4 linked regions of the Homo sapiens genome follow. The gene in region 3 interacts genetically with the main gene of each other region. Each region holds a gene or a part of one and is shown on either strand. Other genes may lie near its edges.

Region 1 (3,500 bases), on a different chromosome or scaffold from region 3:
GCTCACTGCAACCTCAGCCTCCCTGGTTCAAGCAATTCTCCTGGCCTCAGCCTCTTGAGTAGCTGGGACTGTAGGCACATGCCACCACACTCAGTTAATTTTTGTATTTTTAGTAGAGCTGGAGTTTCACCATGTTGGCCAGGCTGGTCTCAAACCCCTAACCTCAAGTGATCTGCCCACCTCACCCTCCCAAAGTGTTGGGATAACAGGCGTGAGTCACTGTTCCCAGATCACTTTTTTGATATAGTTTGTTTCTCTAGAAAGGCAGAAATGTTGATTTTTTTTTTTTTTTTGAGATGGAGTCTCGCTCTGTCACTCAGGCTGGCGTGCAGTGGCACGATCTCAGCTCACTCCAACTTCCGCCTCCCTGGTTCAAGCGATTCTCCTGCCTCAGCCTCCCAAGTAGCTGGGACTACAGGCGTTGTGCCACCACACCCAGTTAATTTTGTATTTTTAGTAGAGACAGAGTTTCACCGTGTTAGCCAGGATGGTCTCAATCTCCTGACTTCGTGATCCGCCCGCCTTAGCCTCCCAGTGTTGGGATTACAGGCATTAGCCACCGTGCCTGGCCAGAAATGTAGATTCTTAAAGGCATTTTTTTAAAGACAGAAATGTAGACTCATAAGTATTTCATATCTCCCTATATAGCTATCATAGGAAGGTATATAATAGCTAGTTATTGAATGAATGGCTATGCTTCAGTGCTTGAAATTTCTTTCCATATTTAAGAAAGTGAAGAAAAGAAAGTACCTTGTTCAAAAGCACTGCTCACATTGTCAGTAAATTCTTTCTGTTTAGCTGAAAAAGAAAACCATTCTGTTAATTTTTCCATTGAAATAGACTCATAATATGAAGACAATACTTAAACTTTGTAATCATGCTGGTTTGAACACAACAAAGGAGGAAGTTTGTATTCAAGGGTAAGGCTTCATAACCTTTGTCTCTGTGTGTACCATGATGGCAGCTGCTGTTTAGCACAACTCTGGTTTACCCTAATAACACTGTTTTTCCAACCATGAAAGGTCTAAGGAGCAATCACCAAGGCTTATAAAATGGCTATAGAATCAGTAAAAAAAAAAAAAAAAAAAAAAAAGACAAAGATATACTTTGATTATCTCCACGAAACAGTTTGGGTCTTCGACATTTCAGCAAGGAGAACATTAACATGCTGGGAACACCTATCAGTAAAGCATTACTGAGTGTTTCCGGCAACCACTTGCAAACTGTATAGCCTCTCAGGAAAATGAAAACATTTACATCATGTTGTGTCATAAGGGAGAAGATGCCAAACAAAATAAAGCAGCAGCTATCTCATATTTCTCGTTTCCTTGTTAGAAAATGAGGAATTTTCCAGTAATCTCATTTTCCAGATATAAATAGTGTCAGTTATTTATATGGTGTCGTCTTTCGAAGCACTGTCAAATACATTATATCCGTAAGGCAGGAAATGACAGGTATTGGGGGAATTGTCCCATGGGTGATGAGTGGAAGAGCTGGGAACAGAATCCAAGTCACTTGACTCCCAGTCCGGTGTTTGAAACTCATCTCTCAGGTAGCAGTGTGGTGTCCACAAAAGAACAACAGACTAGGAACCTGGAGGTTCTTAAGCCCTGACCCTAAAATTAACTAGCTCTATGCCCTTGAACATTAATTTTACCTGGGCCATAGCAGATACCTTACAGGAGAAAATTTAGGAATTAATCTAAATTAAGGTCAGTGAGCTGCTCAAAGTCAAATGTTTACTATAGGGCTAGAATAAGTGTTTTTTTTTTTTTTTTTTTTTTTTTTTTTGAGACAGTTTCGCTCTTGTTGCCCAGGCTGTAGTGCAATGGTGCGATCTCGGCTCACTGCAACCTCCACCTCCTGAGTTCAAGCAATTCTCCTGCCTCAGCCTCTGAAGTTGCTGGGATTATAGGTGTGTGCCACCATGCCCGGCTAATTTTGTATTTTTAGTAGAGACAGGGTTTTGCCATGTTGGTCAGGGTGGTCTTGAACTCCTGACCTCAGGTAATCTGCCCATCTCAGCCTCCCAAAGTAATGGGATTATAGGCATAAGACACCAAACCTGGCCTAGAATACATGCTTTTACGTGCTTTATCTCATTTAACTTGATCCCCACAACCACCAGTACTAATATTATCTCCACGTACAGATGAGGAAATTGAGGCTCAGAGGAATGAAGTCATTTGTTCAAGGTCACGCAAAGTCAGTAGCACGCTGCCCTCACTCCAGATCTTCATGCTGCCCTGACGTCTAAAATTGGGCAGCTGAGCCCACTGACTGCAACTCCTGAGTTTCTCTTATCCCTACAACCCAGTCCTAATGCTGTGAACATATCTCCAAGCTGACGGTCCCCTCACCACAAATTCTATATTACTGCTTTAAACATCTTTTCTCATTACTGTTTGCTCATTTAGTAAATACCAAGTTCCTTTTAAACTATAAGTACTTTTCTGTGAGCTGAGGATGTGAGGGAAGCAAAAAGTAGACATGATTTCTCCTGCAGAACTTCCAGTCTAATGAGGGAGGCTGATATTGATCAATTAATGTCACATAGAACAGTAAAGTTATAACTGTGATTAGTCCTACAAAAGAAATAGCCACTACTAATAGATAGCTTAAAAAGGCTTCTCTGAGGAAGTGATGATTGCCTTCAGATCTGAAGAAGGAGGGGTTAACTTAAATGGGGCGGAGGAGAGGAGGGTTTCAGGCAGAAGCAACAGGCCCTAGGGTAGGAGGGTGCCCAGTATAGATGAGGAACTGGAAGTGGTCATTGTGGCTGGAGTGGAGAAGGCAAAACAGAGAGAAGCAGAGGCCACGGCATCCGGGCCCTGTAAGGGATGCTAAAGAGTTTTAGAGCAGTGAGAAGCCACTTAAAAGTTTTTTTTTTTTTTCTTTGAGACGTGTTTTCGCTCTGTTGCTGAAACTGGAGTGCAATGGTGCAAACACGGTTCACTGCAGTCTCCACCTCCTGGGCTCAAGTGATCCTTCTGCTTCAGCCTCTCGAGTAGCAGGGACTACAGGCATGCGCCACCACATCTGGTTAATTTTTAAATTTTTAATGGAGATGGGGGTCTTGCTATGTTGACTAGGCTAGTCTTGAACTCCTGGGCTCAAGTGATCCTTCCACTTCAGCCTCCCAAAGTGCTTGGATTACAGGCGTAAGCCATCACACCTGGTCAATTGAAATAAGGCCAAGAGTAGTGATTAGATTTGGGTTTTGGCCGGGCTTGGTGGCTCACACCTGTAATCCCAGCACTTTGGGAGGCTGAGATGGATGGATCACCTGAGGTCAGGAGTTTGAGACCAGCCTGGGCAACATGGTAAAACCCCGTCACTACTTAAAAAAAATAGAAAAATTAGCCAAGCATGGTGGCACGCACCTGTAGTCCCAGCTACTTGGGAGGCAGAGGCAGGAGAATAGCTGGAACCTGGGAGGCGGAGGTTGCAGTGAGCCGAGATCATGCCAGTGCACTCCAGCCTGGGCAACAGAGCAAGAC
Region 2 (7,752 bases), on a different chromosome or scaffold from region 3:
TCCATATATATAGCCATTATTTTCAACAAAGGTGTCAAGACCATTCAACAGGGGAAAGAATGGTCTTTTCAAGAAATGGTGCTGGGAAAACTAGATTTCAGCACCCTAACATTTTTTAATGACTGAAATAAATAATTTGTATCAGGCCCTTGCTTGCTTGCGCATGTTAACCACTCACTTTTTGCTGAATATCCCTTGTTGCCACAATATAATGATAAACTGTTGATGTACTGCTTCTTTGTCAATCAAGAGAAGATAACTTCAGCGTCATGTAAAGAAAAATGTTGCCAGAAGAAATGAATGGCTTTAAGGACACTGTGACCAGCTGCTAACAACCAGACATCTGGTTGCTCAAGGCGTTACCTGAGACCAAAGAAACACAGACTTTTCCACTGGATTCTGTGAAACTCCCCCTCCCTTACTAGATCTAGTCACATAAAATCTACCCAATGCTTCCTTTTGTTTAGATGGATTCGAGAGATCTTGCCCTCCCATCTTCTTGCTTTAGCCAAATCGAATAAACCTTTCTCTATCTCCAAGTACCGGTGACTCAGTGTTTGCTCTCAGCTCCACATTGGGGATACAAGCCTGAATTGAGGATTCTATAACAATCTTAGAAGAAAACATTGGGGAAAGTCTTCATGACACTGGATTTGGCAATGCTTTCCTGGATATAACACCAAAAGCATGGGAAACAAAAGAAAAAAATTTAGATAAACTAGACTTCAAAATTTTAAAATTTCGTGCATCAAAGGAAACCATCAAGAGTGAAAAAGGCAACCCACAGAACGGGAGAAAATATTTGCAAATCATTTACAGGTTGTGCATATCAAATCCAAAAATCTGAAATCTGAAATGCTCCAAACTCCAAAACTTTTTGAGCACTGGCATGATGCTCAAAGAAAATGCTTATTGAAGCATACCGAATTTCAAGTTTTTGGATTTAGAATGCTTAACTGGGGCTGGCCACGGTGGCTCACACCTGTAATCCCAGCACTCTGGGGGGCCAAGGTGGAGGATCGCTTGAACCCAGGAGTTCAAGACCAGCCTGGGCAACTCTATTAAGTAAATAAATAAGTAGGCGAATGCTTAACTGGTAAGTATAAATGCAAATATTGCAAAATCCAAAATCCAAAATCCAAAACATTTCTGGATCCTAGCATTATGGATAAGGAATACTCAACCTATAACAGATAAGGGATTAATATCCAGAATATATAAAGAACTCCTATAACAACAAAAAACCCAATTTAAAAAAATGGGCAAAGGATATGAATAGTATTTTCCCCAGGAAGACATACAATTGACCAATAAGCACATGAAAATAAGGTCAACATCAGTAATTATTAGAGAAATGCAAATCAGAACCACAATGGAGATGCCACTTCACAACACAGTCACTAGGATGGCTACAATAAATAGCACCACAACAAGTGCTGATGAAGATTTGGAAAAACTGGAACCCTTGAGCATTGCTGGTAGGAATGTAAAATGGTGTAGCTGCTATGGAAAAGTCTGACAGTTCCTAAAAACGTGAAACATAGAACTACCATATGAGCCAGCAATTCTACTCCTAGGTATATTTCCAAAAGAATCGAAAGCACGGTCTCAAACATTTATCTGTACAACAATGCTCATAGTAGCAGTATTCACAATAGCCACGAAGTAGAAACAACCCAAGGGTCCATCTACAAATGAATGGATAAACAAAATGTGGTATACACACACAATGGAATATTACTCAGCCATAAAAAGGAATAAAGTTAATATATGCTACAAAATGGACAGACCATGAAAACATTTTACTTAGTGAAATAAGCCAGTTGCAAATGGACAAATACTGTGATTCCACTTACATGCAGTACCTAGTCAAATTTATAGACAGACAGTTGAATAGGGGGTAGAGGGAGGAGGAAGGGGGAGGCATTCTTTAAAAATATGGAGTTTATGTTGGCAGTGATGAACAGTTTTGAGTACAGATAACAGTGATGGGTACACAGCACTGTGAACGTAATTAATTCTACTGAATTATACCATTTACAAATAGTTAAAATGGGCCAGGCATGGTGGCTCACGCCTGTAATCCCAGCACTTCAGGAGGCCAAGGCAGGAGAATCATTTGAGATCAGGAGTTCGTGACCAGCCTGACCAACATGGTGAAACCCTGTCTCTTCTAAAAACACAAAAAAATTAGCCAGGCATGGTGGCACATGCCTGTAGTCCCAGCTACTCAGGAGACTGAGGCAGGAAAATCGCTTGAACCCCGGAGGCGGAGAATGCAGTAAGCCGAGATCCCACCACTGCACTCCAGCCTGGGTGACAGAACAAGACTCTGTCTCAAAAAAAAAAAAAAAAAAAAAAAAAAAAAAAAAAAAAGTTAAAATGAGGAATATTATGTTATACATATTTTACCACAATAAAAAATTGCATCATGGCCCTCGTAGTGGCTCACGCCTATAATCACAGCACTTTGGGAGGCCGAGGTGAGAGGATTGCTTCAGTCCAGGAGTTCAAGACCAGCCTGGGCAACATGGTGAAACCCCATCTCTACAAAATAAAAAAATCAGCCTGTGGTGCATGCCTGTGATCCCAGCTACTTGTGGGGCTAAGGTGGGAGGATCACTTGAGCCCAGGAGGTTGAGACTGCAATGAGCTGTGACTGGCTCTAACGTAGTATCATGCCATTAGGGAGGGCAGGTGAGGGGTAATAGCAGGACACTCCCACTACACACTTCCTTTTGTTTCTTTTGAATTTTACACCATGTGCATGATTATCTATTACAAAAAACAAATCATAAAGGGGGAAAAAAAGCATGCAGATGATAATACCTTCATATGAAAATGCTGGAAAGAGTCTTAAATATAATCTAGTTCAATGTTTTCACTTTATAGATGAGGAACTTCAACAGCACACAGATTATATTATGTTCTTGCCCAAATTCAAACATCCAATAAGGCAAAGACAGCGATAAAAGCAGATGTAGATAAAGGAGAGTGTATTTTTTTTTTTTTGAGACGAAGTCTCGCTCTTGTTCCCCAGGCTGGAGTGCAATGGCACGATCTCTGCTCATCACAACCTCCGCCTCCCGGGTTCAAGCGATTCTCCTGCCTCAGCCTCCTGAGTAGCTGGGATTACAGGCATGTGCCACCATGCTCAGCTAATTTTTGTATTTTTAGTAGAGGGGGAGTTTCTCCATGTTGGTCAGGCTGGTCTCAAACTCCTGACCTCAGGTGATCTGTCCATTTTGGCCTCCTAAAGTGCTGGGATTATAGGCGTGAGCCACCGCACCCGGCCGAGGACAGTATATTTCCTAAGAAAACAAAAGTAACCACAAAACAAAAGAAACAATTTTTATAGAATTTTTTTTTTTTTTGAGACAAGTCTCGCTCCGTCGCCCAGGCTGGAGTGCAGTGGCGTGATCTCGGCTCACTGCAAGCTCCGCCTCCCGGGTTCACACCATTCTCCTGCCTCAGCCTCCAGAGTAGCTGGGACTTACAGGCACCCACCACCATGCCGGGCTAATTTTTTGTATTTTTAGTAGAGACAGGGTTTCACCATGTTAGCCATGTTATTTATTTTATTAGGTGGGTATTTTCTGTAGAAAGAATTTGCAAGTAAAATGGTGGACTTACAGAATCTTTGTTTCAAAGGTTGGTTACGCTAAACTCTGAAGCAACTCTCCAACTATCAGCACTGGAAGTAGTCAAGTTTATCTGGCTAGATTTTTCTTTTATTAGTAAAATGTCAGAAGAACTGGACTTCAGAAGCATTACAATCCTAAATATAGAATGTCTTCTAAAGGTTAAAACATTCTGGAATTTAACTTTTTATTTACATGTTATGTTGATCAGTTTTCTTCTCTCATAGAAGTAAAACTATATTCTGTTTCCTGATGTAAAACCAGTGTTTATGAAATATGAATAAGTATTTAGGAAAAAAGAAGCCCTGGGATAATGAGTATCTGTTCTTTTCTTTTTTTTTTTTTGATTCCCCAGACACACAGTGGATCTGTATGGCGTGTGACATGGGCCCATCCTGAATTTGGCCCATTAAATTTATTTAAATTTAAATAAAATTTAAAGAATTTTATTAACCCTTGGCCAGGCGTGGTGGCTCACGCCTGTAATCCCAGCACTTTGGGAGGCCGACAGGCAGATCACGAGGTCAGGAGATCGAGACCATCCTGGCTAGCACAGTGAAACCCCGTCTCTACTAAAAATGCAAAAAATTAGATGGGCGTGGTGGCGGGCGCCTGTAGTCCCAGCTACTCAGGAGGCTGAGGTAGGAGAATGGCGTGAACCCGGGAGGCGGAGCTTGCAGTGAGCCAAGATTGTGCCACTGCACTCCAGCCTGGGTGACACAGTGAGACTCCGTCTAAAAAAAAAAAAAAGAATTTTATTAACCCTTAAGAGTTTAAAGTTAAAAAAAAAAAAGAATTTTAGAGTTAGGCACAGTGGCTCATGCCTATAATCTCAGCAACTCAGGAGGCTGAGGTGGGGCCAGGAGTTTGAGACTGCAGTGAGCCAGAATACTTTAAAATCATATATTACTATCATAAAATATACTAATAGGTAAAATCAAATACAATGCAAATATTCTGGATTCATCATAAAAGTTATAAACAATGCAGTGATGCTCCTAAGTATTGCTTCAGACCCAAGTTAAAATGAAATAAAAAAGGAAGAAAAAAACATGGAAGAAAGAACTTTAGAACTGGTAAAACTAGAGGGGAGTGGTGATATTTTACCAATTATCTGAGGTAGCCTTCGGATGAATGCTCCTTGGCTGCTCATGTCTTCCCGGTCCCCAGAATACTAATAAATGTCTCACCCAGTGGCTCTGTCCTCGCAGTTTATCATTTGATTCTCCTACTATTTCTTCCCATACAGCAGCTGTTCGGTCAAAAGAACAGGAAGCCAAAACCTGCCCAAATTCAGGATGGGCCCATGTCACACGCCATACAGATCCACTATGTGTCTGGGGAATCAAAAAAAAAAAAGAAAAGAACAGATACTCATTATCCCAGGGCTTCTTTTTTCCTAAATACTTATTCATATTTCATAAACACTGGTTTTACATCAGGAAACAGAATATAGTTTTACTTCTATGAGAGAAGAAAACTGATCAACATAACATGTAAATAAAAAGTTAAATTCCAGAATGTTTTAACCTTTAGAAGACATTCTATATTTAGGATTGTAATGCTTCTGAAGTCCAGTTCTTCTGACATTTTACTAATAAAAGAAAAATCTAGCCAGATAAACTTGACTACTTCCAGTGCTGATAGTTGGAGAGTTGCTTCAGAGTTTAGCGTAACCAACCTTTGAAACAAAGATTCTGTAAGTCCACCATTTTACTTGCAAATTCTTTCTACAGAAAATACCCACCTAATAAAATAAATAACATTAGATTTATTTGCTCCAAAATCCATACAGACAGAAAGTAGATTAGTGGTTACCAGCGGCTGGGAGCAGAGTAAACAAGAAGTGACTGCTAAATGAGCACAGGGTTTCCTTTAGAGGTGGTAAACAATGTTCTGAAATTAGAAGTGGTGGTGGTTGCCAATTAAATGAATATACTTAAAATCACTAAATTGTACACTTTAAATGGGTGCACATTATGATATGTAAATTATAGCTCAATCAAAAAAATACTTTTTTTTCATTTGATTCAACCAGGCATAGTGGCTCACGCCTGTCTTCTCAGCCCTTTAGGGGGCTGAGGTGGGCAGACTGCTTGAGCCCAGGGGTTCAAGACCAGTCTGGGCAATATGGCAAAATGCCATCACTACAAAAAATACAAAAAATTAGTCAGGTGTGGTGGTATGCACTTACGGTCCCAGCTGCTTGGGAGGCTGAGGTGGGAGGATCACTTCAGCCTGGAAGGTTGAGGCTGCAGTAAGCCAAGATTGTGCCACTGCACTCCAGCCTGGGTGACAGAGCAAGAACTTGTCTCCAAAAAAAAATTATTTGCTTCAAAAGTCTAACAATATATAGAGATTATAGCCATAGAATGCTTAAATGATTTTAACTGACAATACAGTCTATCGATAACAGACTATTGTAGGAAGAGCAAATATGGGGAAGCCCAAATCCTTACACCCCTCCTGTTGGCCAAGGGGTGGGAGGGGAGGTGGCTGGAGAAGGGATACAAAGGTCTTAAAGAATTTCACCATCAAAAGAATTTGCTAGGTGCTTCTCAGGGAAAATACTGTATAATAACAAATAACATTCAGAAAATGTGTTTCACACTGTATAGCTAACATTTTTTACATTCAACAACATAAAAATAGTTTAACCAATAACTTCTACATGGTAACAATGTCACCAACTAAAGGTACATTTTGCACCCTTTTTTTTTAACCTTGTTTTGTCCAGTCTTTTCTGTATCATCTTTAATTCTTACTTATACAGGGCTATAAAATTAAAAATGCACACTAAGGCAGATAAGTTTTATTAGATTTACAGTAAAATGCAATCTAAAGAATAAGGTTTGCACAAAGATGCTCATCACAATAAAATGGAAACTGAAATATCCACTAGTTAAGCAAAATGGTATATTTATTGGCTGTTAATAAAAAGCCTTTAAAGATATAGAAAAGTACATATGAAATATATTAGGCTTAAAAGCAAGAGATGGGGTTTCCTTTTGGAATAATAAAAATGTTTTAGAACTAGAAAAAGGTGGTAGTTACACAACACTGTAAATGAAGTAAATGCCAATTAATTGTTTACTCTGAAATTATTAATTTTATAAGTTAACCTCACCTTAAAAGGGGGGGGGACCTTGGATAGACCTTTCACAAAAGAAGATACATGAATGGTAAATAAGCATATGAAAAAATAATCAACATGAGGTATTAAGGAAATACAAATCAAAATCCAATGATTTTTGTGGTCACTTCTCAACTACTAAAATGGCTATAATAAAAAAGACAGATATTATCGAGTGTAGGTGAGGATGTAGAGAAACTGGAACCTCACACATGGCTGGTGGGCACAGCCACTTTGGAAGAGTTTCGCAGTTTCTTAGAAAGCTAAGTGCATATAGCCCATCAATTCCACTCCTACGCATCTATCCAAAAGAAATGAAAATATATGTCTACACAGACTTACATGGCACGTTCTTAACATTACTCATAACAGCCAAAAACAACAACTCAAATGTCCGTCAACTGGTGAACAGACAAACAAAACGTGGCAATATACATACAACGGACTACTCAGTATCAAAGGAACAAATTGACACATGACACAATATGGATGAACCTCAAAACATGCAAAGGGAAAGTGGCCAGACACAAAGGACTATGTATTTCAAAATTCCATTTCTATGAAATTTCTAGAAAGGATAAACCAGGCCAGGCATGGTGGCTCAAGCCTGTAATCCCAGCACTTTGGAAGGCCAAGGCGGGCGGATCACTTGAGGTCAGGAGTTCGAGACCAGCCTGGTCAACATAGTGAAACCCTGTCTCTACCAAAACTACAAAAATTAGCCGGGTGTGGTGGCATGCGCCTGTAATCCCAGCTACTCAGGAGGCTGAGGCAGGAGAATCGCTTGAACCCAGGAGGCAGAGGTTGCAACGAGCCAACATCGCACCACTGCACTCCAGCCTGGGCGACAGAGCAAGACGCCAGCTCAAAAAAAAAAAAAAAGAAAAGAAGAGAAGAGAGGGTGGGAGGGGAGGGGAGAGGGAGGGCAGAGGAGAGAAGAAACCTATGGAGACAGAAAATGGATCAGTGGTTGCCTGG
Region 3 (8,203 bases):
TTGGCAAGAAATGTCACCAGCAACTTTTAGAACTTTCCGGTGGTCCACACTCGGCCAAATCATCTTCAAAAAGGAGGCTCAAATCAGGCCCGGTCCTGACCCCCAGGCACAGACCCAGGGGACCGCCTCCGAGACATCATGTTTCTTGCCAATCCGGGTCAACTTCCTGATGGTCTATCGCATGTGGGAGCAAAGGGACTTAACAGTCACTCTTCCACAGTTTAATTGTTTTGTCATTTTCTAGCGCGGCAGAGGTGATGATGTTTTCTGTTGGGTGACAAGCTGTTGAGGTCACAACATCTGTGTGGCCTTCTAATTTCTGTACAATCTCTTTCGTCTGAAGTTTCCAGATGTAAAGAAGGTTATCCTCCGAGCCAGACACAATCCACTTCCCGCCAGTAACAGAGAAATTAGCAAATATGCAGTATTTCTCGTTCTTGTGGCCAGTGTATGTCTTCAGGCACTTCCCCTTGCTGTAGTCCCAGAGCTTGAGTGTTGCCCAGCGTGGCAGCCACGATGTATCCACCCTTCGGGGAGAGCTTCACGAAAGACACCAGGGGTTGTCATCATCAGTGAGCGTTTTCAGGCACTGGCCTGAGGCTGTGTCCCAGATGTGACAGAGACCATCATAGCTACTTGAAACTATCAAGAATCCATCACGATTAAAATGAATGGCCGAGACTGGATCGGAGTGAGCTAGCAGTCTTGTGGCACTTCCCTGTTTTCACAACCCATATCCTCACACTTTCATCAAAGGATCCTGAGACAGTAAGGCTGGACTGGGGATTGAAGTTACAGCAAAAGACATAATTACTGTGTCCCTTCAGGGTTTTCAGACACTTTCCCGAGCTCACGTCCCGTATCTTCAAGGTTTTGTCATCTGAGGCGGAAACAAAAAGGTTAGAATCTGACGACCAGGCTGTGACCAGACGGTTTTCTCAAATTTCCCATCATATGAGTCCCCCAAATTTTAATGAGTTTATCAGCAGATGAACTTGCCAGCCACTCTCCATTCGGGCTGAATTTCACGGAGGACACTGCTTTGGTGTGGCCAGCAAGGGTGAACTTTAGAGAGCATAGTTTGGCTTCACGGGCGTAGGCTTGCTCTGAGTGGTGGATGACGAAGGGGTCGGCTGTGCTCTCGTTGCCTCGGTCTCGGGCTTCCTCTCCTCCATCGCCATGGCTCTGACGCTGGCCGCACAGGGGACGTGGACGGAGGGTCCTGATGACAGAGGCAGTCTGCCGGGCTGCTGCGGAGGGCCGGGCGCTCGGGGCGTCGGCGCATCCTCCCTGGGCGGGAGCGCGGCCTATTCATTTATTTTTTTTGAGACAACAGTCTCACTGTGTTGCCCATGCTGGAGTGCAGTGGTGCATTTTCGGCTCACCGCAACCTCTGCTTCCTGGATTCAAGCGATTCTTGTGCCTCAGCCTCCTCAGTGCCACAGGCACGTGCCACCACACCCAGCTAATTTTTTATATTTTTAGTAGAGATGGGGTTTTGCCATGTTGGCCAGGCTGGTGTCAATTCCTGATATCAGGTGATCCGCCCGCAACGGCCTCCCAAAGTGTTGAGATTATAGGCGTGAGCCACCGCGCCGGCTGAGAATTTTATTTCACCAAATGAGTCTCCTGCTAACAAATGTTTACCTGCCATTGGCCTACACTGTGCAAAGGGCCTAACTATTAGATAATATCTAGAAATGTCACAAAATTAGCCTGAAAAGTAATCCATTTTTTTCCTGTAAAATAAGTTAAGGTAGCTTGAGATGTTTCTATTTTAAGTTGGTAGGGTTAGGCCCGGTGGTGGCTCACAAATCCCAACATTTTGGGAGGCCAAGGCGGTCAGATCGTTTGAGGCCTAGAGTTTGAGACCAGCCTGGCCAACACGGCAAAACCCCATCTCTACTAAAAATACAAAAATTAGCTGGGCGTGATGGTGTGCGCCTGTAATCCCAGCTACTTGGGAGGCTGACGCAGGAGGATCACTTGAACCCAGGAGGCAGAGGTTGCAGTGAGTTGAGATCGCGCCACTGCACTCTAGCCTGACAGAGTGAGACTGTCTCAAAACAAAAGAAAGTTGGTAGGGTTAAATTTGCATCCCAAAATTTACTAGCATCTATAAAGACATACATTACTTTTTTTTTTTTTTTTTTTTGAGGAGTTTCACTCGTTGTCCAGGCTGGAGTGCAATGGTGTGATCTCAGCTCACTGCAACCTCTGCCTCCCAGGTTCAAGGATTCTCCTGTCTCAGCCTCCTGAGTAGCTGGGATTACAGACATGCGCCACCACACTTGGCTAATTTTTTAATTTTTAGTAGAGACAGTGTTTCACCATGTTGTTCAGGCTGGTCTCAAACTCCTGACCTCAGGTGATCCACCTGCCTCGGCCTCCCAAAACGTTGGAATTACAGGCATTAAGCCACCATGCCCGGCCCATGCATTACTTAAAAAAATTTTTTTTGAGACACGGTCTCTGTCACCCAGGCTGGAGTACAGTGATGTGATCTCAGCTCACTGCAACCTCTGCCTGTCAGGTTCAAGTGATTCTCCTGCCTCAGCCTCCCAAATAGCTGAGATTACAAGCATGTGCCACCACACCCAGCTAATTTTTTGTATTTTTGGTAGAGATGGGGGTCTGACTGTGTTGCCCAGGCTAGTCTCAAACTCCTGAGCTCAACTGATTCACCCGCCTCAGCCTCCCAAGGTGGTGGGATTACAGGCGTGAGCCACCACACCTGGCAAGGATGTGCATTACTTTTATAATACTGGCTCGTTATAAGAATTCAAAACAGAATTGGCTATCCACTTTACATATTTTACAACATGGCCACCTAAAAGTGTCCTTTTAGATATGCAGAAAAAGTAGAAAGGCAGGATTCAGTCAAAAGATGAATCTGAGTTATTAGTATTTTGGAAGGAAATTCCTTTCTCAGGCCTTTACCATCATATAATACAACCAATGTGAGAAATGAAAGGAATAGGGCATGTGGATTTAGCAAGCTACTATACAAATAAGGGTTAATATTTCTAGGTTCTATTTCCATGTCTTAGGCAGCATTATGGCCTTGGTGTTTTCAGAGGGACTAAATGTAATCAGCATAAAACTATTTTGCAGGTTCTGAAGTAGTCACACCAATGTAAAAAATCAACATTTACTTTTTTTTTGAGACAGTCTCACTCTGTTGCCCGGGCTGGAGTGCAGTGGCACGATATCGCCTCACTGCAATCTCTGCTTCACAGGCTCAAGTAATTCTCGTGCCTCAGCCTCCCAAGTAGCTGGGATTACAGGCACCTGCCAACACACCTAGCTAATTTTTTTATTTTTAGTAGCAATGGAGTTTCACCAGGTTGGCCAGGCTGTTCTCAAACTCCCGACCTCAGGTGATCTGCCCACCTCGGCCTCTCAGAGTGCTGGAATTACAGGCATGAGCCACCACATCTGGCCAACATTCACTCTTAAGCCTTTCTAAATTATTCCAATATTACAAGGACAAATGCTAATCTGATGAGTTTCAATCTACGTTGAATGAATGCTAAAGTTGAATGAAATGCTAAACTGATGAGTTTCAATCTATGTTGACTGTTTCATCACAGTAACATAAATGAAGTTTTTATTTTTCATAAATGAAATGTAATGATGTTAACAGTGGATTGGAAAATCTTCTGGAAGTTTTTGGGTTTTTTTTTCAAGACAGAGTCTGGAGAGCAGTTGTAGCGCCCAGGCTGGAGAGCAGTGGCACCACCTCAGCTCATTGCAACCTCTGCTTTCCAGGTTCAAGTGATCCTCTCACCTCAGCCTGAGTAGCTGGGACTACGGGTGCGTGCCACCACGTCTGGCTAATTTTTTGTAGAGATAAGGTCTCATCATGTTGCCCAGGCTGGTCTCGAACTCCTGGGTTCAAGTGATCCACCCGCCCTGGCCTCCCAAAATGTTGGGATTATAGGTGTGAGCCACCATGCCATGTTTTTAATGCATTTTAAAATTATGTTAAAAGAAAATTCTTACAAAGATATTTTAAGATTACATCACAGCAAGCAACTGTTTAATTGGGACAAAGAAGATACACTAAAAGCCAAATGAATTACTGTAATTAAATTTGTACAGTTTATTGACTTTTTTTTCCTTTTTATTTATTTGAGATGGAGTTTTGCTCTTGTCACCCAGGCTGGAGGGCAATGGAGCGATCTTGGCTCACTGCAACCTCCCCCTCCCAGGTTCAAGTGATTCTCCTGCCTTAGCCTCCCGAGTAGCTGGGATTACAGGCACCCACTACCACGCCTGACTAATTTTTGTGTTTTTAGTGGAGACAGGATTTCACCATGTTGGCCAGGCTGGTCTCGAACTCCTGACCTCAGGTGATCCACCCGCCTTGGCCTCCTAAAGTGCTGGGATTACAGGCGTGAGCCACTATGCCTGGCTATTGACATTTTTTTTTTTAAGCAAAGAGGTGGGGCACATCCACTGCAGTCCAGGCATTCTGGCACCACCTCTGTTATTAACTGGAATCAAATTTTAAAAATTTCTGTGATCTTGAAGGTCTTGTTGAAGTTTTAGAGGTCTTTTGTTTTTCTTTTAGCCACTAGATTTTTCAGGAAAAATTCACCTATTTAGGAAAAAGGAAAACACATTAATATCAATTTAAAGTAAATAACAGTGAGACAACTATTTCAGAATTATATTTTTGGTGTTCCCCCTTTAAAGAAGACTTTTGTATTTATTGGCACTTCTCTCTTCTCAAACCTCAATGGCAATATTTTTCTAACCTAAATATCCCCTATTATCTTTGGCCTTTCTCCCCAGCAATAATGACTAGAGTCTCCTACTATTATTCTTTCTAGTAAGCCAATATTACAAAGGGTGACCCTACTGTATATATGGGTCTGCACATTAATTCTACTTTATGTGCACTATCTATCCCTCATCACTGTCAAAGTATTGCTCTTGGCAAAATTCATTTCCAAGAGCAATTTTGCTACATTATTAGGCTGGATCTGATGTTTATAAAACAGATCTCGTTGCAGCTGAGCAGACGCATCTGATGGAATCTCTTTAGCTTATTCCCCTCTAGGGAAGCAAGAGCTCTTCATTTGTAATGGGCTTTCTCCCCACCGCCTGAGTTGTGCCTACGCAATAAGTTAGCAGCTTAGAGGGCACATTCTCTTTTTAGGCCATTAGTGTTCCATTTAGTCTATTGCTCTTACAGCATGACTCAATGCTTATTGGTAGAGTGCAGCACTAGAGGCCTGATTTTATGAGGAGTCTGATTAACTTCTCTTTGTCATCTTACATATGAGTAGAACTGTGATGAGTCTATCTACATATAATCTCTGCAAATCCCAAGGCTCATAACCCAGCCAAGTAATCCATGCTGCTCCATACCTCCTCCAAATGTCGTGGGAGTAGCACCAACTTTATCAGACCCTAATCCATCATTTTAGTCTAATGCTCATCATATACCAGAATCTGATCTTTTCCTGGTAATTTAGAAAGCATCAGAAAGTTCATAATTTACTTCCTTTTATGTTAGAAATTTTTCTTTAGCAAAAGAAAAACTCCTTTCAAAGGACATTACTCTAACCATTCTAGAAGCTGATAGTGGTTCTATCCTTCACATGTATTTTTAGCTTGCCAGCAGTGCTGCTTGAAGACTAAATCACTTACAATTACTGGTTTTCAAAGTCCCCACATTCTGTCACTCAGTGCTGAATCAAATTCTTGGGTTTTCAAACTATGATGAGCTACTAGTTCATTAAAATGTTTTAAATTACTATTTTTATTTATTTATTTTTGAGACGGGGTCTCATTCTGTCACCCAGGCTGGAGTGCAGTGGCACGATCACAGCTCACTGCAGCCTCAACCTCCTGGGCTCAGGTGATCCTCCCACCTCAACCTCCTGGGTAGCTAGAACTAGAGGTGCCCACCACCACCCAGCAACTCAGCCACCCAGCTAATTTTTGTATTTTTGTAGAGATGGGGTTTTGCCATGTTGCCCAGGCTGGTCTTGAACTCCTGGGCTCAAGTGATCCACCCGCCTCGGCCTCCCAAAGTGCTAGGAGTACAGGCGTGAGCCACTGCACCCGGCCTTAAATGTCTTTATAGGAACTAGGAACATACAGAATATTACTAATACTGGAGCATTAATTTTTTCAAATAGAATTTGTCTAATTTAAACATATTTAAGATTTAGACCCCAATATATAAAGCAATCATTTAAAACATCACCACTTTAGATAAAAAAAAAAAATACCTAGTTTATTTATTTATTTACTTATTTATTTATTTTTGAGACAGAGTCTTGCTCTGTTGCCCAGACTGGAGTGCAGTGGCATGATCTTGGCTCACCACAACCTCTGTCTCTCGGGTTCAAGCAATTTTCCTGCCTCAGCCTCCCAAGTAGCTGGGACTACAGGCACACACCACCATGCCCGGCTAATTTTTGTATATATATTTTTTCTTTTGGAGACAGAGTGTTGCTCTTTCGCCAGGCTGGAGTGGAGTGGCAGGATCTTGGCTCACTGCAACCTCTGCCTCCCAGGTTCAAGCTATTCTCTTGCCTCAGCCTCCCGAGTAGCTGGGACTACAGGTGCGCAGCACCATGCCCAGCTAATTTTTGTATTTTTAGTAGAGATGGGGTTTCACCATGTTGGCCAGGATGATCTCAATCTCTTGACCTTGTGATCTGCCCACCTCGGCCTCCCAAAGTGTTGGGATTTCAGGCATTAGCCACCACGCCTGGCCAATACCTAGTTTATTTTTAAAGAGACAAGGTCAGCCGGGTGCGGTGGCTCACACCTGTAATCCCAGCACTTTGGGAGGCCCAGGTGGGCGGATCACAAGGTCAGGAGATCGAGGTCATCCTGGCTAACACGGTGAAACCCCGTCTCTACTAAAAATACAAAAAATTAGCCAGGCGTGGTGGCGGGCACCTGTAGTCCCAGCTACTCAGGAGGCTGAGGCAGGAGAATGCCGTGAACCTGAGAGGCAGAGGTTGCAGTGAGTCAAGATTGTGCCACTGCACTCCAGCCTGGGCGATGGAGAGAGACTGCATCTAAAAAAAAAATAATAATAATAAAATAAAAAATAAAGAGATGAGATCTCACAATGTTGCTCAGGCTGTATTTGAACTCCTGGGCCCATGCGATCCTCCTGCCTCGGTCTCCCAAGAAGTTGGGACTATAGGCACACACCACCACACCTGGCCTAGCTGTTTCTTTTTTTTATTTTATTTTTGAGACACAGTGTCTTGCTCTGTCACCCAGGCTGGAGCTGTAGTGACACGATCATAGCTCACTGCATCCTTGAACTCCTAGGCTCAAGTAATCCAACTGCCTTCCAAAGTGCTGGGATTACAGGCATGAGCCACCTTGCCTGGCCTATTTATTCTTTTTTTTTTTTTTTTTTTGAGACAGAGTCTTGCTCTGTTGCCCAGGCTGGAGTGCAGTGGCACAATCTCGGCTCACTGCAAGCTCGGCCTCCTGGGTTCATGCCATTCTGCTGCCTCAGCCTCCCGAGTAGCTGGGACTGCAGGTGCCCGCCACCATGCCCGGCTAATTTTTTTGTATTTTTAGTGGAGAGGGTTTCACCGTGTTAGCCAGGATGGTCTCGATCTCCTGACCTCGTGATTTGCCCGCCTCAGCCTCCCAAAGTGCTGGGATTACAGGTGTGAGCCACCCCACCTGGCCAGCCAATTTATTCTTAATCATTATAATTGTTAAGTCCAACTGACAGGGACATCATAAACACTTTCTAGATTAAATTCGGTCTTCAGATATGTTCTTTTGGATCCTCCGACAATCATTATCACATGACTTTTTATCCCTTGGAAAATGATTTTCTTTTCATAAATCAATTCAAGCTATTGATTAAAATAAGAGCTGAAATTCCAAAAGTAAAAAAAATTTGCATTGTAGCTAGTAAAACAACTAAACGTTCCTACGGAGAAAAATAATCTTATGGATATTTTTCTGTTGCCTCTGGGGGAAAAATACAAAGAAATTTAATGATGCAAGCAATGCTATCAAATAAGATACTTTTCAGTGCTTAAACTGATTGAAACTGAGTCTGGAGATGCAGCTGGCATCATTTCCAAATAAATATGTATTTCTCAGAAAACCCTATTAGATGCTTGACATGCTCTGTCATTTCTGAATAACCTACTACTGAAATCTACACATAGAAAAAATTAATAAACTAATTGTTTCT
Region 4 (8,204 bases), on a different chromosome or scaffold from region 3:
AAAAAAAAAGAAAGAAAGAAGAAAGGCTAGGCGCAGTGGCTCATGCCTGTAATCCCAGCATTTTGGGAGGCCAAGGCGGGCGGATCACCTGAGGTCAGGAGTTCCAGACCAGCCTGGCCAACATGGTGAAACCCCATCTTTTCTAAAAATACAAAAAATTAGCTGGGACTGGTGGCAGGCACCTGTAGTCCCAGCTACTCAGGAGGCTGAGGCAGGAGAATCACTTGAACCAGAGAGGCGCAGGTTGCAGTGAGTGGAGAGTGTGCCACTTGCACTCCAGCCTGGGTAACAAGAGCAAAAGTCCATCTCAAAAAGAAAAAAAACAAAATAAATAAAAAGCATCTTGGGTCCCCCTCCATCTCAGTACTTTCTGTGGCTCCCTGGCTCCAACAATCCACATTCCTTCCCCTCCAGGGACTCTGCCTTCCTCCAGGTCTTGCCTTCCCATCTGAGGGAGGCCTCCCCCAGCCACCCCAACTGTCTTCTGTGCTATAGCCTATTTATCCTCCCAGAACTAAGGTGGTCACACAGCAGGTGCTCCCCACACCAAAGCCAGCGGGTGGGTTGCTGACCCCAAGCCTAGGGTGGGAGTGGCAGACCATCTTCTGGGTGCCTACGTTGGCGGGCAAAGACCCTGAGGCCTGGGAGACTGCGTACGGAGTAAGGCCAGGAGGGCAGAGAGGCTGGGAGGGGAGGGTGATGGCCTCTGTCCTTAGCCCTGTATTCCAGGACAGAGCCTGTCGGGGGAGGGCAGGCCCATCCCCAAAGGACCTAGTTCAGTGAGCACATGGCCCTGTGGTCACTTCCCACAAGCCCTGAGCACATCTGCCCAGTAAGGCAGGGGTGGGCTGTGATCGGCAAAAAAACAAGCCTGAGGAGTGATTGCCCAAGTTGCTCAGGGCATTATGGCGGAGCCATGACCCCTGCAGGGAAACCCAGGGGCGTCTGCCACCCCCAAGCTGGGCTCACTTCCTGCATCCATTTGTAGAGCCCAGGGGCTACCAATCCTGTCCTTGCAAGTCCAGGCACCAAGCCACCCCAAAGACAGAGCCCTGATTACCCAAACTCCATTGAAATCAGCTTCTCTGCTGTCCTTTTTTTTCAAGACAGGGTTTCTGCTGCTCAGGATGGAGTGCAGTGGCACTATCACGGCCCACTGTTAACTTCAACCTCCTGGGCAAGTGATCCTTCCATCTCAACTTCCCATAGTTGGGACTACAGGTGCACACCACGCCTTGTTAGGTTGTTTTTTAGAGATGGGGTCTTGCTATTTGCCCAGGCTGGTCTCAAACTGCTGGCCTCAAGTGATCTTCCCTCCTCGGCCTCCCAAAGTGCTGGGATAATGGGCACGAGCTACTGTGCCCAGCCCGTTCGCATTCTTCTGGGGTGTACTCAGGAGCTAGGATACTGCTCAAGGCCACAGGAAGGGACCCCAGGCAGCTGTGATGCCCAGACTCCCCTCCTCATGCTCATTTTGCACCAGAAACGCTTCCCCAATACCATGTTGCCCACACTTCAGCTCCACACCTGCCCTCTTGGATAAGAACCTGGGCAGAGGCCACCCTTGACAAAGTGCTCATGGAATACTTGAGAGATGTGTAAAAAGGCTTTATTTGCAGGGGAGCAGGAATTTAATCAAAAAGGCCAAATCCCATGTCATCATCTGACTCTTCAGACTCCTCCTTCTTCTCATCTTTCTTCTCCTCTGCTGTGGAACAGAGGAGAGGCATGGTGAGCACTGCCCAAGTGCCAGGCCAGTCCCCCCATGAAGACCCCACTGCAGCAACACCGTCTGAGCCCCAGCCCCTTGCCCACTCACCAGGCCACCACTTACCTGCAGCAGGGGCAGAACCAGCAGCAGGGGCTGCAGAGCCTGGGGCAGCAGAGACGGCTACAGCCCCACCAGCAGGTACACTGGCAAGCTTGCCAATACCTACAGAAAGCAGAGAGGTGAGACCAGAGCAGCTGCCCAGCCTGGGAGGCTGTTCCACAGGGAAGTTAGATGGCACCAGAGATGGCACATGGCACCCAACATATCTGGACCCACCATATGCCAGTGTCTCCCGTTCTTCCTGAACACTCCCTCCCTGAGCCACTCCTCAACGGGGACTTCTCTTCCCCACCTTTCCTATCCAGGGACTTGCCTTCTAGGAATTAGGCCCACACTGCCTGCCTGCCCAATTTCCCCACCTCCACCCTCAGAGGTCCACTGGACAGACATGTTCATAACTAGGTAGGGAATGAGTGTGCTGCCCCAGTATCCACATCTCTGGCCACAACGCTGTGTTCATGGCTTGGCCCGTTTGCTGAGCTGGCCCTGTCGTGGTCACATGCATGGAAGACAAGAACAGCTGCCCCAACAGCTCAACTTCCAAACAAGTTCCACCAGCTCAGCTGAAGCCAACAAAAAACCATCTGCCCAACAAAGAGGCAAGGAGCCTATGGACATCCCTGGCACCCTCAGTCCCTGCCCCCAACCCCCTCACAGAAAGCATGTGGTAAGGACTGCTGACGTGAACTCAGTTCTCCAGACACCAAGCTTCAGACAAATCCTGGGGAATGGCCTCAGGGCTAGGAGCAGTCAGGCTTAAGAGGCAGGGCCACCTAAACGTCTGCTGAGAACACAGGGTGCCCCCTGCTGCCCTGCTCCTGAGAGTGTCTAGAAGTGCCCATGACGTGAGCCCACTGGAGCCCTGCTCACTCCTCGGGTGAGGCTTCTAGGGTGCTCTGGTCCACAAGCGAAACCTGGCAGGCCACAGATGGACCGGCAGGGATTAGGATGGACCATGAAAACAAACGAAAGCCCGTCCACATCAACTCACCCTGGGCAATGACGTCTTCAATGTTTTTTCCATTCAGCTCACTGATAACCTGAAGCAGACAATCACAGGGCTGTTACCAGGAATGTACGATTGTATCCCCGGCCCTCTCCCTCCCAGAGTCACAGCAGGACTGGGTTCCCCACATGGGAATAGGCCCTGAAGTTTCCAGAACTGCACTGCCCAAAGGGAGCCACCAGCCTCACTTGGGAAGTGATATAAAAATAAATGGACACTAGCTTTCTTAGACTTAGGACTGACAAAAGGACACAGGGCATCTCACTACTTATGTTGACTACTCATAGGTATCTTCAACACTGGCAAAATAAACTGGCAATGAAATTGACTTTGACTTCAGGCTGGAGTGCAGTGGTAGGATCTCACTGCAGCCTTGACCTCCCGGGCTCAAGTGACTATCCCACCTCAGTCTGGGACTACAGGCATGAGCAACCAAGCCTGGCTAATTTTTTATTGTATTTTAGAGACGAGGCCTGGTTCTGTTAGACTGCAGTGGCACAATCACTACTCAGTGCAGCCTTGACCTCTAAGGCTCAAATGATTCTCCCGCATCAGCCTCATGAGTAGCTGAGACTACAGATGTGCACCACTGCCTCCAACCATTTTTTTTTTTTTTTTTTTTTGTGGAGACCGGGTCTTGCAATGTTTTCCAGACCAGTCTCGAACTTCAAGGCTCCAATAATCCACTCGCCATGGCCTCCCAAAGCCGGGTGAGCCATGCGCCAGGACTGCTTTTTTTTTTTTTTAACGCAATCTTACGCAGCTCACTGGTATTAAACTTCCAAAGCTTGTTAATCACGATTTTGCCTCGTACCCACCCTGCTTTTTTTTTTTTTTTTCCTTTTGAGACAGGGTCTCCTTCTGCCACCCAGACTGGAGTACAGTGGCACGATCCGTGCAACCTCCATCTCCCGGGTTCGAGCGATTTTCCTGCCTCAGCCTCCCAAGTAGGGGGACTACAGGCACCCACCACCACGCCCGGCTAATTTTTGTATTTTTAGTAGGGATGGGGTTTCGACATGTTTACCAGGCTGGTCTCGAACCCCTGACCTCAGGTGATCCGCCTGCCTCGTCCTCCCAAAGTACTGGGACTACAGGCGTGAGCCACCGCGCCCGACCTCCGCCCGGCTTACTTCTCTATCCAAGAAATCGCCAACTAGACTGAAACGAGCCTCTCCCCGAACCCTCCAGCATGTGGCCGGATCAGGCAGAAGAATCGCCTGTATGGGACACTGGGGCCCCACGGCGGCTGCGGGGCAAGGGCGGCCGCTACCTTGTTGAGCCGGTCGTCGTCCGCCTCGATACCCACGCTGTCCAAGATCTTCTTGATGTCCTTGGCGCTGGGGGAGGAGTTGCCCCCTAGGGCAGCCAGCAGGTAGGAGGCGACGTAGCGCATCCTGAGGCGGGCGGAGAGGACGCGACGGCGGAGTTACCCCGGCGGCCTCCTGCCGGCCCATCCCGGGGCCGCCGGGCGAGGCCGCGCGTGGCTCGGCCCGTAGGCCTCCGTCCCAAAAATACCCCGCCGCCCACCCCGCATCCCCACGGACTCCGCGTCCCCAGCCGGCACCCCGGGCCCGGTCACCACACTCACGCGGCGGCGTCTGCGGCGGAGGCGGCGGAGAAGTCTCACGCGTGCGACCTCGGTGGCGACAGGGAGGAAAAGGAAGGCGCCGACGCAAGAGGCGGGGTTAAACCGCTACCCAGAAGGCTCTGGGACCCGTGCGCGGCGCCGCATGAGGCGCCTCAGAGTGACGTCACGAGGCGCTCAGCCAATGACGACGGGGAGGGAGTCGTTGACTCCTTCCCCCTCCCCCTTCCCAGCCCCCGTCAGGCACTTTTCGCGGCAAAGGCGAAGGGCAGCAGTTCCGGAAGTGACTGCTCTTATAGCGTGGGGCGAAGGGCCACCGAAACTCGTGGGGGCGTTGGACGAAGCGAGTCCAAAGGGACGGCATCTGCCTTCGGTACCTAGCACCCCCAGCATGCCACGCGGCGCCTACAGCTCCCAACATGGAGCGCGGCCGCCACGCCCGGGACTCAACCTTTGCCAGCGAACTGCAAGTCCCATGGTGCACCGCTGCCGGAAGTGGCCTGCGCCGCGGGCCTACCCGGAACGGCGCGTGGGCCCGGGCAGAAGCTGCTGGCGGTAGGCTCGCCTTGACTCCTTGGTGGTTCCCTGGCCGCGGCGACCGGTGGTCCCACGTCCAGCCGGGCTCAGTGAGGTGAGCCAGCCGCCTCGGACTTAGCGACTGCGGCCCTATCTGGGAGGCCGCCCCCGCACTGCGGTGTCAGGGCATCCTGTCAGAGGACGAGCGCGGGCCTTGGAGGGCAGGACAATGACGTGAGGCAGCGTCGCCCGCTCACCCCTGCGAGGAGTGAGGTCTGAGTGGTCAGCCCCTGCGCTGGCCGCTTTGGCCCGGAACTGACCTCGGTGTCCATGTGGACATCAGCACCTCAGGGACCCCGCTACATTCTCGGGTCCTGGGAGGGAACAGGGTTGGCCCTGCCTCCTAAGGACTTGAGTTCTTGTGCGAGGACGCAGGAGGTGAATAGGGAGGCGATCCGAAGGACAGGGACAGAGGGAGACTTGGTCCTCTGGGCAGCCTGAGAAAGCTTGAGCTGAGAGATGAGAAGGAGCCATCCCTGCCAATATCCCGGGCGAGCACCAGGAACAGGGTCAGATGCAGGTATCTACCGTGTTAGCAGGCAGCGCCAGCTCCCGTTGGGCTCTAACAGCAGTGCAAACCCTGGGGTGTGTATACGTCAAGCACTGGAACTCGACTTCACAGTCGCCTTCTGTGGCCTCGTTATCATTACCCCCATTTTATAGATGAGGCAGTTGGGTACAGAAAGGTTTTTTTGCTCAGGGTCACACATCTGGGGTAAAGGCGGGAAACCATCTTGGGAACAATGGGACTTTTCTTATTTTGTAATTTTTGAGACTGGGCCCCATTCTGTCGCCCAGCCTGGAGTGCAGTGGCTCGATCACAGCTCGCTGCAGCCTCAACTTCCTGGGCTCAGGTGATCCTCCCACCTCAGCCTCCTAGCGGAGACCACAGGCGTGTGCCACCACACCCGGCTAAAATTTTTTGGTAGAGACAGCGTTGTCCAACATGGGCTCAAGCGATCCTCCCACCTGGGCCTCCCAAAGTGCTGGGATTACAGGCGTGAGCTACCGCGCCCGGCCCCAACTTTTTTTTTTCTTTTTTTCTGAGGAGTCCCACTGTTCCCCAGGTTGGAGTGCACTGGTGAGATCTTGGCTCACTGCAACCTCTGCCTCCTGGGTTCAAGCGATTCTCCTGCCTCAGTCTCCTGAGTAGCTGGGATTACAGGCACCCACTACCATGCCCGGCTAATTTTTGTATTTTTAGTACAGACGGGGTTTCACCATGTTGGCCAGGCTGGTCTCAAACTCCTGACTTCAAGTGATCTTCCCACTTCCGCCTCCCAAAGTGCTGGGATTACAGGCACGAGCCACTGTGCCCAGCCCCATCTCACTTTTTTTTTATTATCCCAAACAAACTCTGTACCTATTAAAGTCCCTATTCCCTGCTCCCCCACCCTTGATAAACACATTCTACTTTCTCTTCCTATGATTTTGACAACTGTAGCACCCCGTAAGACTGAAATAATACAGTATTTTGCCTTTTGTGTCTGGCTTTTTTCATTCAGTGTATTTTCAGATTTCAAGTACCTACCTAAAAGGTAGATGCTAAGACAAATTTAATATAAATACAGAGTAGTTTATGTGGGCCAGGCTTGAGGATTGCGTCCTGGGAACATAGATTCAAGTTGCCCTGAATTTACACTTTGAGGAGCAGCAGTTATAAGTGGATTCTATTTATTTATTTATTTTTGAGACTGAGTCTTGCTCTGCCGCCCAGGCTGGAGTGCAGTCGCGTGATCTTGGCTCACTGCAACCTCTGCCTCCCAGGTTCATGCCACTCTCCTGCTTCAGCCTCCCAAGTAGCTGGGACTACAGGCGCCTGCTACCGCGCCCGGCTAAGTTTTTGTGTTTTTAGTGGAGACGGGGTTTCACCGTGTTAGCCAAGATGGTCTCGATCTCCTGACCTCGTGATCTACCCTCCTCGGCCTCCCAAAGTGCTGGGATTAGAGGCGTGAGCCACCACGCCCGGCCTATTTTTTTATTTTTTTGAGACGGAGTATTGCTCTGTAGCCCAGGCTGGAGTGCAGTGGCGCAATCTCAGCTCACTGCAAGCTCCGCCTCCCGGGTTCACACCATTCTCCTGCCTCAGCCTCCCGAGTAGCTGGGACTACAGGCGCCCGCCACCACGCCCAGCTAATTTTTTAGTAGAGACAGGGTTTCACCTTGTTAGCCAGGATGGTCTCGATCTCCTGACCTGATCCACCCGCCTCGGCCTCCCAAAGTGCTGGAATTACAGATGCGAGCCACAGCGCCCAGCCTGTTTTTTTTTTTTTTTTTGAGAGGGAGTCTCACTCTCACCCAAGCTGGAGTGCAGTGCCGAGATCTCAGCTCACCGCAACCTCCGCCTCCCGCGTTCAAGCCATTCTCGTGCCTCAGCCTCCCCAGTAGCTGGGATTACAGGCGCCTGCCACCACACCTGGGTAATTTTTGTATTTTTAATAGACACACGGTTTCACCATATTGGCCAGACTGGGCTTGAACTCCTGACCTCAAGTGATGCGCCCACCTCAGCCTCACAAAATGTTGGGATTACTGGCGTAAGCCACAGCATCAGGCCTGTGGTTGGTTTTTAAAAAGATCTCTTGGCCGGGTGCGGTGGCTCAAACCTGTAATCCCAGCACTTTGGGAGGCCGAGGCGGGTGGATCACGAGGTCAGGAGTTCGAGAACATCCTAGGTAACACGGTGAAACCCCGTCTCTACTAAAAATACAAAAAAATTAGCCGGGCGTGGTGGTGGGCGCCTGTAGTCCCAGCTACTCAGGAGGCTGAGGCAGGAGAACGGTGTGAACCCTGGAGGTGGAGCTTGCAGTGAGCCGAGATCACGCCACTGCACTCCAGCCTCTGGGACACAGCCAGACTCCATCTCAAAGAAAAAAAAAAAAAAGATCCCTCCAGGCCCTACATGGAAGGGGCTGGGGTGAATGGAAGCAGGGAGGCCTGGAAGAGACCTGCCTGTCCCAGAGGGAGGGATGGTGGTAGCTGGGAAATGGAAGGAAGAAGGAGCCGCCGATATGACCTCAGGAAAGAAGCAGGCATAGCTGGTGGTGTCTGTTCCCTCCCTAAACACCTGCTCTCCTGGGCGAGGAAGCTGGTGAATAAAGCACAGGCCCGCTCGGGGGTATCATGTTGGTGGGGAAGGAGGAGCCGCTGATATGACCTCAGGAAAGAAGCAGGCATAGCTGGTGGTGTCTGTTCCCTCCCTA

The links.
Region 1: changes in LIAS (region 3) and HSCB together harm fitness more than expected from each alone (negative genetic interaction), as found in Homo sapiens cells (one large-scale study listed by BioGRID).
Region 2: changes in LIAS (region 3) and SEH1L together harm fitness less than expected from each alone (positive genetic interaction), as found in Homo sapiens cells (one large-scale study listed by BioGRID).
Region 4: changes in LIAS (region 3) and RPLP2 together harm fitness less than expected from each alone (positive genetic interaction), as found in Homo sapiens cells (one large-scale study listed by BioGRID).

Annotation. Positions count from the first base shown.
Region 1 is NC_000022.11:28,748,539-28,752,038, reverse strand, and holds part of HSCB (iron-sulfur cluster co-chaperone protein HscB isoform 1 precursor), read right to left. Parts: intron 799-3,500; coding exon 751-798; intron 1-750.
Region 2 is NC_000018.10:12,952,689-12,960,440, reverse strand, and holds part of SEH1L (nucleoporin SEH1), read right to left. Parts: intron 4,979-7,752; coding exon 4,832-4,978; intron 1-4,831. UniProt on the Homo sapiens protein: Component of the Nup107-160 subcomplex of the nuclear pore complex (NPC). The Nup107-160 subcomplex is required for the assembly of a functional NPC.
Region 3 is NC_000004.12:39,473,463-39,481,665, reverse strand, and holds the end of LIAS (lipoyl synthase, mitochondrial isoform 1 precursor), read right to left. Parts: intron 4,604-8,203; coding exon 4,551-4,603; 3' UTR 2,160-4,550; downstream 1-2,159. UniProt on the Homo sapiens protein: Catalyzes the radical-mediated insertion of two sulfur atoms into the C-6 and C-8 positions of the octanoyl moiety bound to the lipoyl domains of lipoate-dependent enzymes, thereby converting the octanoylated domains into lipoylated derivatives.
Region 4 is NC_000011.10:806,264-814,467, reverse strand, and holds RPLP2 (large ribosomal subunit protein P2), read right to left. Parts: upstream 4,502-8,204; 5' UTR 4,429-4,501; intron 4,235-4,428; 5' UTR 4,234-4,234; coding exon 4,111-4,233; intron 2,872-4,110; coding exon 2,823-2,871; intron 2,788-2,822; exon of another isoform or gene 2,654-2,787; intron 1,934-2,653; coding exon 1,835-1,933; intron 1,709-1,834; coding exon 1,632-1,708; 3' UTR 1,592-1,631; downstream 1-1,591. Other genes in the region: PIDD1 (p53-induced death domain-containing protein 1), read left to right, coding at 5,516-5,521. UniProt on the Homo sapiens protein: Plays an important role in the elongation step of protein synthesis.